Linked DNA regions of Homo sapiens. The protein of the gene in region 1 purifies or fractionates together with the protein of each later gene. This does not show direct contact. Each region holds a gene or a part of one and is shown on either strand. Other genes may lie near its edges.

The links. Proteins that work in one complex are often made in the same cells at the same time.
Region 2: the proteins of RNF111 (region 1) and PES1 purify together in Homo sapiens (co-immunoprecipitation; one large-scale study listed by IntAct). This does not show direct contact.
Region 3: the proteins of RNF111 (region 1) and PML purify together in Homo sapiens (affinity purification with western blotting; 2 studies listed by BioGRID, with this or other methods). This does not show direct contact.
Region 4: the proteins of RNF111 (region 1) and SMAD2 purify together in Homo sapiens (affinity purification with western blotting, with the first as the bait; 3 studies listed by BioGRID). This does not show direct contact.

The regions. Positions count from the first base shown.
Region 1 is NC_000015.10:58,990,663-58,994,162, reverse strand, and holds part of RNF111 (E3 ubiquitin-protein ligase Arkadia), read right to left. Parts: intron 3,248-3,500; exon of another isoform or gene 3,215-3,247; intron 1-3,214. UniProt on the Homo sapiens protein: E3 ubiquitin-protein ligase. Required for mesoderm patterning during embryonic development. Acts as an enhancer of the transcriptional responses of the SMAD2/SMAD3 effectors, which are activated downstream of BMP.
Region 2 is NC_000022.11:30,579,018-30,581,910, forward strand, and holds part of PES1 (pescadillo homolog), read right to left. Parts: intron 2,628-2,893; coding exon 2,511-2,627; intron 2,392-2,510; coding exon 2,317-2,391; intron 2,085-2,316; coding exon 1,995-2,084; intron 1,685-1,994; coding exon 1,554-1,684; intron 1,162-1,553; coding exon 1,036-1,161; intron 919-1,035; coding exon 734-918; intron 287-733; coding exon 120-286; intron 1-119. UniProt on the Homo sapiens protein: Component of the PeBoW complex, which is required for maturation of 28S and 5.8S ribosomal RNAs and formation of the 60S ribosome.
Region 3 is NC_000015.10:74,001,216-74,004,715, reverse strand, and holds part of PML (protein PML), read right to left. Parts: intron 1-3,500.
Region 4 is NC_000018.10:47,868,160-47,871,659, forward strand, and holds part of SMAD2 (mothers against decapentaplegic homolog 2), read right to left. Parts: intron 2,406-3,500; coding exon 2,316-2,405; intron 1,278-2,315; coding exon 1,084-1,277; intron 299-1,083; coding exon 164-298; intron 1-163. UniProt on the Homo sapiens protein: Receptor-regulated SMAD (R-SMAD) that is an intracellular signal transducer and transcriptional modulator activated by TGF-beta (transforming growth factor) and activin type 1 receptor kinases.

The sequences.
Region 1 (3,500 bases):
GGGAGGGTGAGTCAGGAAAATCACTTGAAGCTGGAAGGTGGAGGTGACAATGAGCCAAGATGGGGCCACTGCACTCCAGCCTGGGCCACAGAGTGAGACTCCATTAAAAAAAAAAAAAAAAAAAAAAAATTTAAGTAACAACAAATTGGGATGTCAAAAGATAGTAAAATAAGTAATTTATTCGAGTGCCCTATAGTACATATGAATAAGGGAAATGACTACAACATTGATTCAGACTTGACACCTAGCCATATATAGAATTTCTTAAATTTTCTATTTGGTAGAAAAGGAAAAATATTTTTTAAGAATCCAATCACATACAAACTAAACTAAGATGCTAATCGTGTATGCCCTCAGGAAAACACAAAAATCTTCTCCATGTTAACACAATCCACACTGCCAAACTCTCCTTTCCACCAGCAAGCCATAAGCCCCTTCAGGCAGGTGTTAAGAGCCTGCCCTTTGTTTTAACTCAAGCACTGGCACAGTGCCTGAAATACAACACTCCTGTTTGTTGAATAAATACTGAACATTTACAAATAGAAACGAAATACTGTATTTTTATCAAAATGAAAAGAAGCGTGGAAGGGAACAGACACTTAAATATGGTACTTTCACAAATTTTGAGATGGAGTCTCACTCTGTTACTCAGGTTGGAGTGCAGTGGTGCAATCTCAGCTCACTGCAACCTCCACCTCCTGGGTTCAAGCAATTCTCCTGTCTCAGCCTCCCAAGCAGCTGGGATTACAGGCACCCACCACCACGCCCAGCTAATTTTTGTATTTACAGTTATATTTTTTTTATTTTTGTGTTTTTAGTAGAGACAAGGTTTCACCATGTTGGCCAGGCTGGTCTCGAACTCCTGATGTCAGGTGATCCACTCGCCTTGGCCTCCCAAAGTTCTGGGATTACAGGTGTGAGCCACTATACCTGGCCACTTTTACTAATTATTTTAAAACATTTTTATTTACAATTGAACATTTTCTTTTTTTTGAGATGGAATCTTGCTCTGTCACCCAGACTGAAGGGCAGTGGCGCAATCTTGGCTCACTGCAACCTCTGCCTCCTGGGTTCAAGTCATTCTCCTGCCTCAACCTCCCAAGTAGCTGGGATTACAAGCACCCGCCACCATGCCCGGCTACTTTTTGTATTTTTTAGTAGAGACAGGGTTTTGCCACGTTGGGCAGGCTGGTCTCAAACTCCTGACCTCAGGTGATCCGCCTGCCTCAGCCTCCCAAAGTGCTAGGATTACTACAGGTGTGCACCACCATGTCCAGCCTAAACATGAATGAACGTTTTCAAAAATATATTATTTTATTTTATTTCATTTACTTATTTATTTTGAGATAGGGTCTGGCTTTGTCACCGAGGCTGGAATGCAGTGGCACAATCTCGGCTCATTGCAACCTCTGCCTCCCGGGCTCAAGCCATCCTCTCACCTCAGCCTCCCGAGTAGCTGGGACTACAGGCATGTGCCATTATGCCTGTCTAATTTTTGTATTTTTTTGGTACAGCCAGAATTTCGTCACATTGCCCAGCCTAGTCTCAAACTCCTGGGCTCAAGCAATCCACCTTCCTCAGCCTCCCAAGGTGCTATGATTACAGGCATGAGCCACTGGGCCCAGCCAAAAAAATATATTTTAAAATATGAACAATTTTCAAACCTCACAAAAGCAGAGAACAATATTATTAATACCCATGTACCCATCACCCCAACCCAACAATTATCCAGATTGTGCCAGACCTGCTTCATCTATCTTATCTCCCTCCACCACATTTTTTGGTTTTTATCTGGTATCTGTTTAAAATAACAGACATTGCTGGGCACGGTGGCCCACGTCTGTAATCCCAGCACTTTGGGAGGCCGAGACGGGCGAATCACCTGAGATCACGAGTTCAAGACCAGCCTGGCTAACATGGTGAAAAACCGTTTCTACTAAAAATACAAAAAGTTAGCAGGCGTGGTGGCGCGCTCCTGTAATCCCAGCTACTCAGGAGACTGACGCAGAAGAATTGCTTGAACCCGGGAGGTGGAGGCTTCAGTGAGCTGAGATCACACCACTGCACTCCAGCTTGGGCAACGAGGGAAACTCCATCTCAAAATAAAATAAAATAAAATAAAATACCAGACATTTGCAAGTTTTCTCCCTCATTCCTCAGTCTCTATCACTAATAAAAAGTGGTCATTTTCTTACATAAACATAATGCCATTATCATCCCTAACAAAGTTACAATAACTCCTTGATATCATCTAATACCCATCCATATTCAGATTTCCCCCAATGTTTCAAAAATGACTTTCTACAATTGGTTTGAGTCAGGGTTTAAACAACACCAACATATTGTATTTGGTTACTACACATAAAATAATTTTAATCTGTCTACATCATCTGACAGCAAATATGAAAAGCTTAACAGACAAACCAAATAATTAATTTACATTTGTAGATTCTCTAGAATCAAACCTCACCTAATGCATTTGCCGCCCCTGCTATCTGTAGCAGTCTTCCTCCAAATCGTCACTATGGCTGATTTTTTCTAGTCATTGAAGTCACAGGTCAAATTACCACCTCTAAAAAGGCCCTCCCTAACCACTCAATCTACAGTAAAACCACTTCCATCCATGCCGTATCACATGGTCCTATTTTCCTCATGGCACTTACCACTACCTGAAACCATTCTGTTTATTATGTTCCCACACACAGAACAGAATGTCAGCTCCATGAAGGCAGAGTGCCTTCACTGAAGACCAGTGACTGTGCCTAGAACATGAGACATTCAATAAATGTATCTACGTAATAATGCAGTACCGCTCTTTAAAATGTAAGCTCAGCTAAGTATTTGGAGGCTTTTTTGTTGTTTTGTTTTTTTTCAAGATGGAGTCTTGCTCTGTCACCCAGGCTGGAGTGCAGATCTCAGCTCAGTGGAACCTCCACCTCCCGGGTTCAAGCAATTCTGCCTTACCCTCTTGAGCAGCCAGGATTACAGGCGCATGCCACCACCATGCCCAGCTAATTTTTGTATTTTTTTTTTAGTACAGACGGGGTTTCACCATGTTGGCCTGGCTGCTCTCGAACCCGACCTCATGATCTACCCGCCTCGGCTTCCCAAAGTGCTGGGATTACAGGTATGAGCAAGCGCACCCAGCCTCAGCTAAGTATTTGTCTTTAAATATTTGTAATTCACTCCTCATGTAATGATATAAATTGAGTACCTGTAGAAACCTGGGCCAGCTGTTACCAAGAATCTGTAGGATGTAGGAAAGAAACAAACAGAGGTATAAGACATTCAAATGTAATTGTGGACTTTTACTGAACAATAATTACAGGTTTCTGAAAGAAAAACAAATTATTCCAGATGATTTTTAAAATGTTACCAGGAGTAATAAAAAATTTCATTTTTAGTACCATCTGAAAGCTATTAAAGCTTCAGTAATTAATATCTACAATGGGACAACAATAGCAATAATATGTGGAACAACAATCATAGTTTTTTTGTTT
Region 2 (2,893 bases), on another chromosome or scaffold:
GCTTATGGGGGCAGGTTCTCCCGACCTCCACAGTCCTCTGGCTCCTGACCTTCTAGGCCAGAGCAGGCACCAAGCAGGGCTGCTTCCCAGGCCAAGCCCCGCATTGCAGCTCCCCCTACCTTCCCCTCCATCCTCTGCTCTTCCAGGGCTGCCAGCCGGGCCTCTTCCTCCTTTTCTGAACCAGCCTCTGCATCTTCCTCCTCCTCCTCATTTTCTCCCTCTTCATCACCATCACCTTCGTTGTTGTCGTCCTCTTCCTCCTCCTCTTCTGACTCATTCAGGTTTCCTAGAGAAAGCCAATGTCCTCTGAATGCCCTGGGAATCTACTGTCTCTCTGGCAGGGTGACAACAGGCCCAGGCCCCATCCTCTCTGACCCTGCCGTCTTTAGCCATGGGCAGTTCAGGGATGTCCCAATTGTGGCCCTCTCTTGCACCTCCCCACAGCCCAGCTGCCATCAGAGGAAATTCCAAGACCCCCAGTCCTGAGCTCTGTCGCCTCCAATGTAAACTCTGATGACAATGCAGCATGTTCTTCTGCTCAGTCATCCTGAACGTCAAATAACACCTGACCCCAGGAGGTAGATGTCCCTTCTCCTAAGCCTTATTCTACAGGTGACTTCAAAGGGCTTTCTGCTCCTACTGCCTGTTCCCTGGAGCTTTCCACCTTGGCAGCTAAGGGAAACAGCCAGCGTGGGCCCAGGGGTCAAGGCCAGCCCAGTCCCATCCCGCTCACCTGGGTCCTCTCCCCGCTGCAGAGCCAGCAGCTTCAGCTTCTCAGGTGGAACGTAATCTCCTTCCTTCTCGGTCACAAAGGGTGAAAGGTGTGGGGGCAGCTGCACCCCAGAGAAGTACTCTGCCACGGGGAGAAGGAGCCTGGCGTTCACTGAGTCAAACACCCACTGGGGCTGCACGTAGCACCTGGCGCAGAGTGGCAGGCAAAAACGAGTCACAGAGGGCAACTCAGGGTCCTGCTGCATCGCAGGGCCTTTGAGACAGGATACCCAGAAATCCGGACGAGGACCCTTGAGGGCCTACCTGCCAATGACTGAGGTCTGCTGCCCAGGCCGGTCGACAATCTGATGGGTGATGCGGGAGTCTGTGACGTCATAGGTGGCCCCAATGCACAAAGATTTGTCCCAGGACACTTCCCCACCAAAACTCCTACAGGGACAGGGAGAGCCCACACGGGTACACAGACATGAGCTGCCTGTCCTGAGACTCAGCTCCCTGGGACCTGCTGGCCACCCAGCCCATAAACTCACCCTCTTAGGACACAATTACCCCCTCCTCACCCCAGGATCCTTCAATCCTGGCTCAGCAGAGATCTGCCCACTGCCCATCCTTCTGTGCTAAGCTAGTAATAAAATGACGGCAGTTCCGCCCTCTGCTGAGCACTTCCTATGTGCTCAGTGCGGTGCCGAGCACTTTCCACACACTGTTTCATAAGAAGTGGAAACTGACACCATCCCAATGTTACCGATGGGCACCAGGGCAGGACCCAGACCAGAGCATGGCCGAACCAATGCTGTCAGCGGGCCCTTGAGCCTCCCTACCTGATGATGAAGGCCAGGGCCTCACGGGGCACCTCTCGGTTCAGGAAGAACTTCAGGCCCTCAAAAAGCTTCTTGTGCTTCTCCTGCGCCTCCAGCTCCTTCCTGCGGTCTTCCTCCTGCGCTGACATCTCCTGTTGAGAAAGGGGCCAGGCCTCGCACCACCAGGGCTGCCCACCCCCACTGGAGGGCCAGGGCTGGAGATAACGTCCACTCCAGCTTCCTTCTAGATCCTGGATCCTGCCTTCAAAGGAAACTCCAAGGCCCCACTCCTGAGCTCTGTTGCCTCCTATGTAAACTCTGATGACAATTCAGCCCATTCTTCTGCTCAGTTGCTTTGACCATCAAATAACACCTAATTATAGGATGCAAATGTCCCTAAGCTGGGAAACCCCCCACACGACCCCTCCCAGCCCTCCTGCCAGAAGGCAGTGCAGTGCTCACCCCATCGGTGGGAAACTCATCCACCTCGGCCTCCTCCTCTGTGGCAGGCACCACCACGCGGGCCAGGCTGGCACTGAGGGCTGCCAGTTTCTACAGGAGAGAAGGGGGCTGCTTGCAGTGGGGGACCTCATGCGGGCATGTGGCCAGGGTGGGGAGGGGCAGCAGTGACAGTCCTGGGCATCAGCAGGTGTGGGTTCCAAGGGCAGGCTGAGACCACCCACCTAGCCATAACCACCCCCACTCTGAACCAGACCCCCAGAGGTGTTGGGGACAGAGACCACTCCCTTGGGAGATGCCGGATGATGCTCCTGGAGCCTCTCACCTCCATACAACTCTCGGAGTCCAACGCGTAGGTGCCCTCACCGGCCTTTGCCTCTGCTTGGGCCTGACCCTCGAGCTAGTAGGCAAAGGGAAGGTCAGGAGGCAGAGGACAGCCACAGCCCCTCGCCTCTGTGTGGACAGAGAAGGGCTGTGGCCCCTGCACGGCGAGCAGAAGGCACTGGGCTGGGGTCCTACCTTCGGGGGATAGTGGAGGTTGAGCAACTGGTAAAGGCGGAAGTTGACAAAGCCCAGCAGCGTGGTGTAGAACTCGGTGAAGGTGGCCATGACCCTGTAGTCCACGTCTGTCGGGTGCTGGGGAACACAAGAGATGCATGAGCAGTGTGGGTGCAGGGATGGGGGCAAAGGAGGGACAGACAACCCACAGAGTGGAGGGTGTCTGACCTACCCAAAGACCCCAAGCTCCTCAAGAAGGCTCTGCCCTTAAGGCGCTGCCCTAGGGAAGGGGTGGCATGGATCTTCCCACCAGGGGCGTTCCGGCCACAAGTGTTCCCAGCCACAAGTGAGGCTCTGGATAGGGGTCCCAAGGGTTAGACGCATCCTGGAAGTCAGTGCCAGAC
Region 3 (3,500 bases), about 15 Mb from region 1:
AAAGCAGAATACAATTTCCCTGAGATGAAGAGCTGAAGAAAGACTTGAGTTTTTCAGATCAACAATGGCGATAGAAGATTATTGAAAAAAGAAAAAATTATATAAAGATCTTTAGCAGGCTGGGCATGGGCTCAAGCCTGTAATCCCAGTGCTTTGGGCGGCTAAGGCAGGAGGATCACTTGAAGCCAGGAGTTTAGACCAGCCTGGGCAATATAGTGAGACCCTATCTCTACATAAAATTTTAAAAATTAGCCAGGCATGGTGGCAGGCACCTATAGTCCTAGCTACTCAGAGACTAAGGCTAGCAGACCTCTTGAGTCTAGGAGTTCGAGGTTACAGTGAGCTATGATCACACCACTGCACACCAGCCTGGGCAACAGAGCAAGAACTTATCTCTAAACAAACAAATAAACAAATGAAAACCATCCAACTATATTTATTAGCCAGGCACGGTGGCAGGTGCCTGTAGTCCTGGCTACTTGGGAGGTCAAGGTGGGAGGATTGCTTGAGCCCAGGAGTTTGAGGCTGCAGTGAACTCTGATTGCACCACTGCATTCCAACCTGGGTGACAGAGTGAGACCCCATCTCTAAAAAGTAAAATAAATAAAAATAAATAAAGATCCTTAACAAACAAAAACAGATTACTCACAGAGAAAAAATAGACCATTAGTGGACTTCTCATCTACAACACCAGAGACTAGAAATTTATGAAGCAAGGTTTATATATTCTGAGGTGAAAGCACTGTGATTATGACCTCAGAATTTTACACCTAGCTCAACTTTCCCTCACATGTGACAGCAAAAGAAGGACATACAAGTAAAGACACTTAAGGTCTCAGAAAGTAAACTCTGGAATAATTTTTTTAATTACTTGATGGAGTATTCCTGCCAAATGGAAAATTAATCACCTTAAATAATTCAAGAAAGGAGAAGAAAAGCTATAGGAAAACTTATCATGAGCAATGAAACCAATTAAAGTATAAGGTATGGCTAACAAGTGCGTTGTAATATGACCATGAAGCTTAATACCTGTTCAGAAAGGATGTTTACAAAAGAAAAAAAAATTAACAATTTGGTAGTAATCTGGAACTAAAAGTTCACATTATTTCAACTAAATCTGAAAGTGAGAAGGAAGAGGGAAGAAGAAAAACTATAAAAGTGTGCTAAATGTTTTATTTTCTCTGGAAGAATAGTTATATTCTACTCTTTGTGGTGATAGATGAGATAGGTTCTAGAGTGTGCATGTATGTGTGTGTTGGTGTGTGTATACACTTTTTTTTTCTGAGATGGAGTTTCACTCTTGTTGCCCAGGCTGGAGTGCAGTGGCACAATCTCAGCTCACTGCAACCTCCGCCTTCCAGTTTCAAGCAATTCTCCTACCTCAGCCTCCCGAGTAGCTGGGATTACAGGCGCCCGCCACCACGCCCGGCTAATTTTTGTATTTTTAATAGAGACGAGGTTTCACCATGTTGGTGAGGCTGGTATTGAACTCCTGACCTCATGATCCGCCTGCCTCAGCCTCCCAAAGTGCTGGGATTACAAGCGTGAGCCACTGCGCCTGGCCCACTTTTTTTCTTTTTTTAAGACAGAGTCTCATTGTGTCACCCAGGCTGGAGTGCAGTGGCGTGATCATGGCTCACTGCATCCTTGAACGGACAGGCTCAGGTGATCCTCTCTGAGGAATACCTCCACCTCCCGAATAGCTGGGACGAGAGGCATGTGCCACCATGTCCAGCTAATTTTGTATTTTTTTGTAGAGACGGGGTTTCACCATATTGCCCAGGCTGGCCTCAAACTCCTGGGCTCAAAATATCCACCGGCCTTGGCCTCCCAAAGTGTTGGGATTACAGGTGGAAGCCACCACATCTGGCCTATATATATGTTTTGATGGGGAAGTTACCACTCTGTAATTATCATTTAGAGAACTGGTGAAACAGAATGGAAGGAAAGGTAGAAAGTTTCGGCCAGACATGTTGGCTCACGCCTGTAATCCCAGCACTTTGGGAGGCTGAGGCGGGTGGATCACAAGGTCAGGAGATCAAGACCATCCTGGCCAACATAATGAAACCCCTTCTCTACTAAAAATACAAAAAAAAAAAAAAAACTTAGCCGGGCATGGTGGCACACGCCTGTAATCCCAGCTACTCAGGAGGCTGAGGCAGGAGAAACACTTGAACCCGGGAGGAGGAGGTTGCAGTGAGCCGAGATCATGCCACTGCACTCCAACCTGGATGACAGAGCAAGACTCCATCAAAAAAAAAAAAAAAAAAAGAAAAGAAAGAAAGGTAGAAAGTTTCAATAGCGTGGAGATACACACACACACACAAGCACTAGAACTTACATATATATGGATATATACATATAGATATATGCATATATACACATATATATTATATACATATATTTGTGTATGTATATATATGTGTGTACAACAAATACAACTTTTCAACTCTAAGGATTATTGCTAGGAATATGTGAGTCCAAGGAATATCCTAGGCCGCTAAGAAAATCTCAATATAGTCTTAGATGTAGAACTCATACAAACTGTATAAACTGGCCATAGTGCAGAAATTAACAAGTATGAAATCGCACCATCACATTCCAGCCTGGGTGACAGAACAAGAAACCAAACATCAAAACCACTTGAAAATTTTAGAAAACACTATTCTCTAAAACTTTTCAAGAGAAAAAAATTTCTTTTTTTTTTTTTTCGAGTCAGGGTCCGGTTCTGATGCTCTGGTTGGAGTGAAGTGGCACCATCACAGCTCACTGCAGGCTCAAATTCTTAGGTTCAAGCAACCCTCCTGCCTCAACCTCCCAAATAACTGGGACTACAAGCATGTACCACCGACCATGCCTGGCTAATTTTTTTTATTTTTTGTAAAGATGAGGTCTTGCTATGTTGCCCAGGCTGATCTCGAACTCTTGACCTTAAGCAAGAGAACCTTTTTAAGAAAAGACTGAAATGAAATTTGAGAAATGATTGACTATGAGAACACTAATGAAGTTATCAAAGTTATGGCATACAGCCAAAACCATATACAGAGAACTTATGCCTTAAAAGAGTTATTATTAGGCAGGGCATTGTAGCTCACGCCTGTAATCCCAGAACTTTGGGAGACTGAGGCGGGTGGATCACTTGAGGCCAGGAGTTCGAGACCAGCCTGGTCAACATGGGGAAACCCCGTCTCTACTAAAAATAAAAAAAATTAGCCAGGCATGGTGGTGGGCACCTGTAGTCTCAGCTACTGGGGAGGCTGAGGCAGGAGAATCACTTGAACCCAGGAGGCACAGGTTGCAGTGAGCCAAGATCTACCACTGCACTCCAGCCTGGGTGACAGAGGGAGATTCTCAAAAAAAAAAAAGTTATTATTATTAAACAATAAAGATTGCAAATAAATGAATTATAAGTTCAAGAAGCTAGAAAATGAATAATGACAAAAGTTAGAAGGAAGAAAATGACAAAAATAAAATGATCAAACAGAAAGAAGGAAAACATT
Region 4 (3,500 bases), on another chromosome or scaffold:
GGCTTATACATTTCACAAAATAATCACCCAACGAATCCAATTTTTCTATTAAAAACTCAAAAGCATTTTTAAAAAAGTGAAACCACAATTTACTAAAACTTGAATGCTTATGAACAAAATTTGTATCTATCCAAGTTTTAGGAGATTCAGAAGGCAAAAATACCTGGAATATAATTACTCTGTGGCTCAATTCCTGCTGGGAAGTTAGTGTTTTCTGGAATGGAGTGAGTATAGTCATCCAGAGGCGGAAGTTCTGTTAGGATCTCGGTGTGTCGGGGCACTAATACTGGAGGCAAAACTGAAAAAGTTCAAGAAATCCAAGTTAATGGCAAAGAGCAAAGGGGAGTGGGGGAACCTTTTTTAAAGTTTTCAACAAGAAGAGAAGTTGTAGCTTAATTTTTAAAGCTAGGGTCCACCTACTCGATATATACTAGTTACTGAGAAAATGACAAATCTGATTATGGCTCTAACTTAGGTAGTCTATTATCCAAATTTCCAAGTTCTAATTTATCTCAAACTTTTGGGAACAATGTGATCCTGGTAATATTATATTACCATAAAAGTTCATAAATCCCCATTGGAAAACTTAACATTGTCTTTATCTGTAAAATCAGATATAGGAAATTTTCCAAAAACGCAGCTACTGCTATATTTTTTAATAGTTTCAGGTAGACAGCTAACTAAATGAAAAGTCTTGTTACAAGCTTTACTAAACGGTGTACATACAAATGATGTCATTAAAGTACTTCTAAAAGCACTCCAAGTGCAAAATGCTTGAAAATGTTACTGCAGCAGGGACATGTAGAAGCACATCAGCATAGCGCTGAGCAGACTGCCAATCTACAGGATTTCCTGGATATGCACTTTCATGCCAAATCATATGCTATTCCAAGAAACAGATATGTTTTCTCATTAAAAATTTTTAAAAATAAAAAAATTTTAATTACCACCAAATAATATGCACAATTTAAGGTAATTTATTAGAATTTACACTAAAATTTTCCTGGGTCACAAGAGTACTTAAATATACTGAAGTTCAGGCATTTAATTCAAAACCAAGAAAAAAACTTGCAATATTCCTACCTGGTGTCTCAACTCTCTGATAGTGGTAAGGGTTTACACATACTTCATCCTTTTTAAGATTAAAAGCATATTCGCAGTTTTCAATTGCCTTGAGTTCATGATGACTGTGAAGATCAGGCCAGCGCCATAATCGGCAATATATAACATGTGGCAATCCTTTTCGATGGGATACCTGGAGACGACCATCAAGAGACCTGTTGGGAAGCAAGGGGAAAAGAAAGGAGGGAACTTTAAAAAAAAAAAAAAAAAAGTGCAGTCAAATGGGCTAAATTAGTACAATAAAAGCATAAAGAAAAGAATGACAGCCATTTAGTTAGTTTTAGTGAGAATCAAGAACAAAAATGTACTATTTAATGGATCTGATAAAAGTATGCAGCAGCACTAGCAGATGTTTCTTATAAATATGTCACATAAATGACTCAAATGCCAATGAAAGGCTAACAACTTGGGAAAAACTGATTTTTTAAAAAAGAGAGTTTATGCAGTTATACTTGAAAAACTTTGTCAACTTCTATGTTTAGTAAATCAAACTCATTTTAGAGATGCTTCTAAGGATATTAATTCTGGAGGTGACTGAAGAGTCAGAAAAGGAACTAGTGTGAAGAATGATAAATACCAACAATGATGTGATAGTAACTTCCTCAGACTACTGCAACTCTTTACCCAGTTGTGACTGTTTTGAGAACTGAGGTATATTTATGTAGTTCACAAATAAATGTGGATGGTGATGAATATGATGAGATGAAATGAACAAATACCATATACGCAAAAAAGAAAATGAAGTGATTAAAAAAAGTAACATAAAAATGAGTTAACCTACTGTTAATTGTGATATAAGGGGTTCATTAAGTATGTATTTATTAGTATAAAGATGAGATTCTGATAACAAGAAATTTAGCAAAACTCATCATGTATCTACTTAAAAATTAGGCCAACAACAGATTATAATCTGATCTCAAGCTAAAATAAATATATAGTTATCAAAATTATTATTCTTTAGGGGATACAGTAATTTAAAGAAGATTCAAACTAGAATTGCATTGATTAAAACATCAGCTGAAACATTTAATATATTTTTTATACTGGCAAGCAGATATTTTAAATGCTATGCCTTATTTTACATTAAGGAAACATCCTAGGCAAAATTATACTAAGCAACCCCATATAGGTCTTTCAAAATATACCCCCCTCCCACAAGATCTCTAAGATTCGACAGAGGGCAGAATATTCACCTGGTTTGTTCAGAGAAGCTGTAAAGGCCTGTTGTATCCCACTGATCTATCGTATTTGGTGTACTCAGTCCCCAAATTTCAGAGCAAGTGCTGTGCATAAATTGAAAAACAAAAAATTGATGTGAACATGGAAGCATGGTTATTCAAAATACCATGATGTAAAACATGGAGAATGTACAGAATACTTCCTTCACCCAGAAAATATACAATTGCTTCACTTTTTCACAGGCATGTAGTGCTGGTTACTATATTTTCTATATGAAGGAAGCCAATAAAATGGAACATGTGACTCCAGATAAGTCATGATTATGTTTTTAAAATGTGAACACCAACGCCCTCTAGCTCAATGAATCATACCTATAATGCCCTTACCACTTTCCTGTATTCAAAAGATCTAAAACCTCTGCCATCAGCTTTACTAAGTGCTTCATTTTATAATCCAGTTTTTTAAAAAATTATCTAAAAACAGATGTCAACTGATTTTTAATATAGAAAAAAATCCCAATAAAAATAGACATGCATCCACAGTTAAGATTTTCAGGTTATCTGGTCATGATATTTTTAAGTTTTACTGAAAATTATTTTGTTCTCATCTCTAGAATAAATAAAGAAATAGACTTTGAAGTCATTCTAATTTAGTATACCACCTTAAAAATTTTCTCCCACATTTCTCTCCAGAATATGGGCAGCTCAGAGATAATTCTCCCTTTTTCCCTACCTTTATTTCATTTCATAGTAACTTCTGGTCAGTGAGAGAAGGGAAAGAGAGCTTAAAAGGAAGTTTTGGAATGGAACTTTGACAGCCAATGTCTCAAGTACTAAGTTGTACTTTTCTGAAAAGTCCATTTCTTACATATTACAAAATCATCAAAACTTCAATGCGGATAAAGGAGTATTTCAAAACATCTTTTGAAAATGAATCAAGCAATTGATTAAATTTCATATTTACACATTGTTAGTGAGCTTAACTGGATCAACAGTTCAAAGGGCAATGGTGAGAAGCGCTGGCTTCCTGTGGCCAGGCAACAGAACCACCTGGCATCCTTGGCTTTAGTACTACAGGTGCTGTCACATAGCTATCAGGCTGCAGGAACACATCATGCCCTGCTTTGGGGGCTACAGTGACCCGACAGTTCAAAACAAAACCTGTTCTGAAATTTTCCAGCATCTCATTCAAGTATTTTA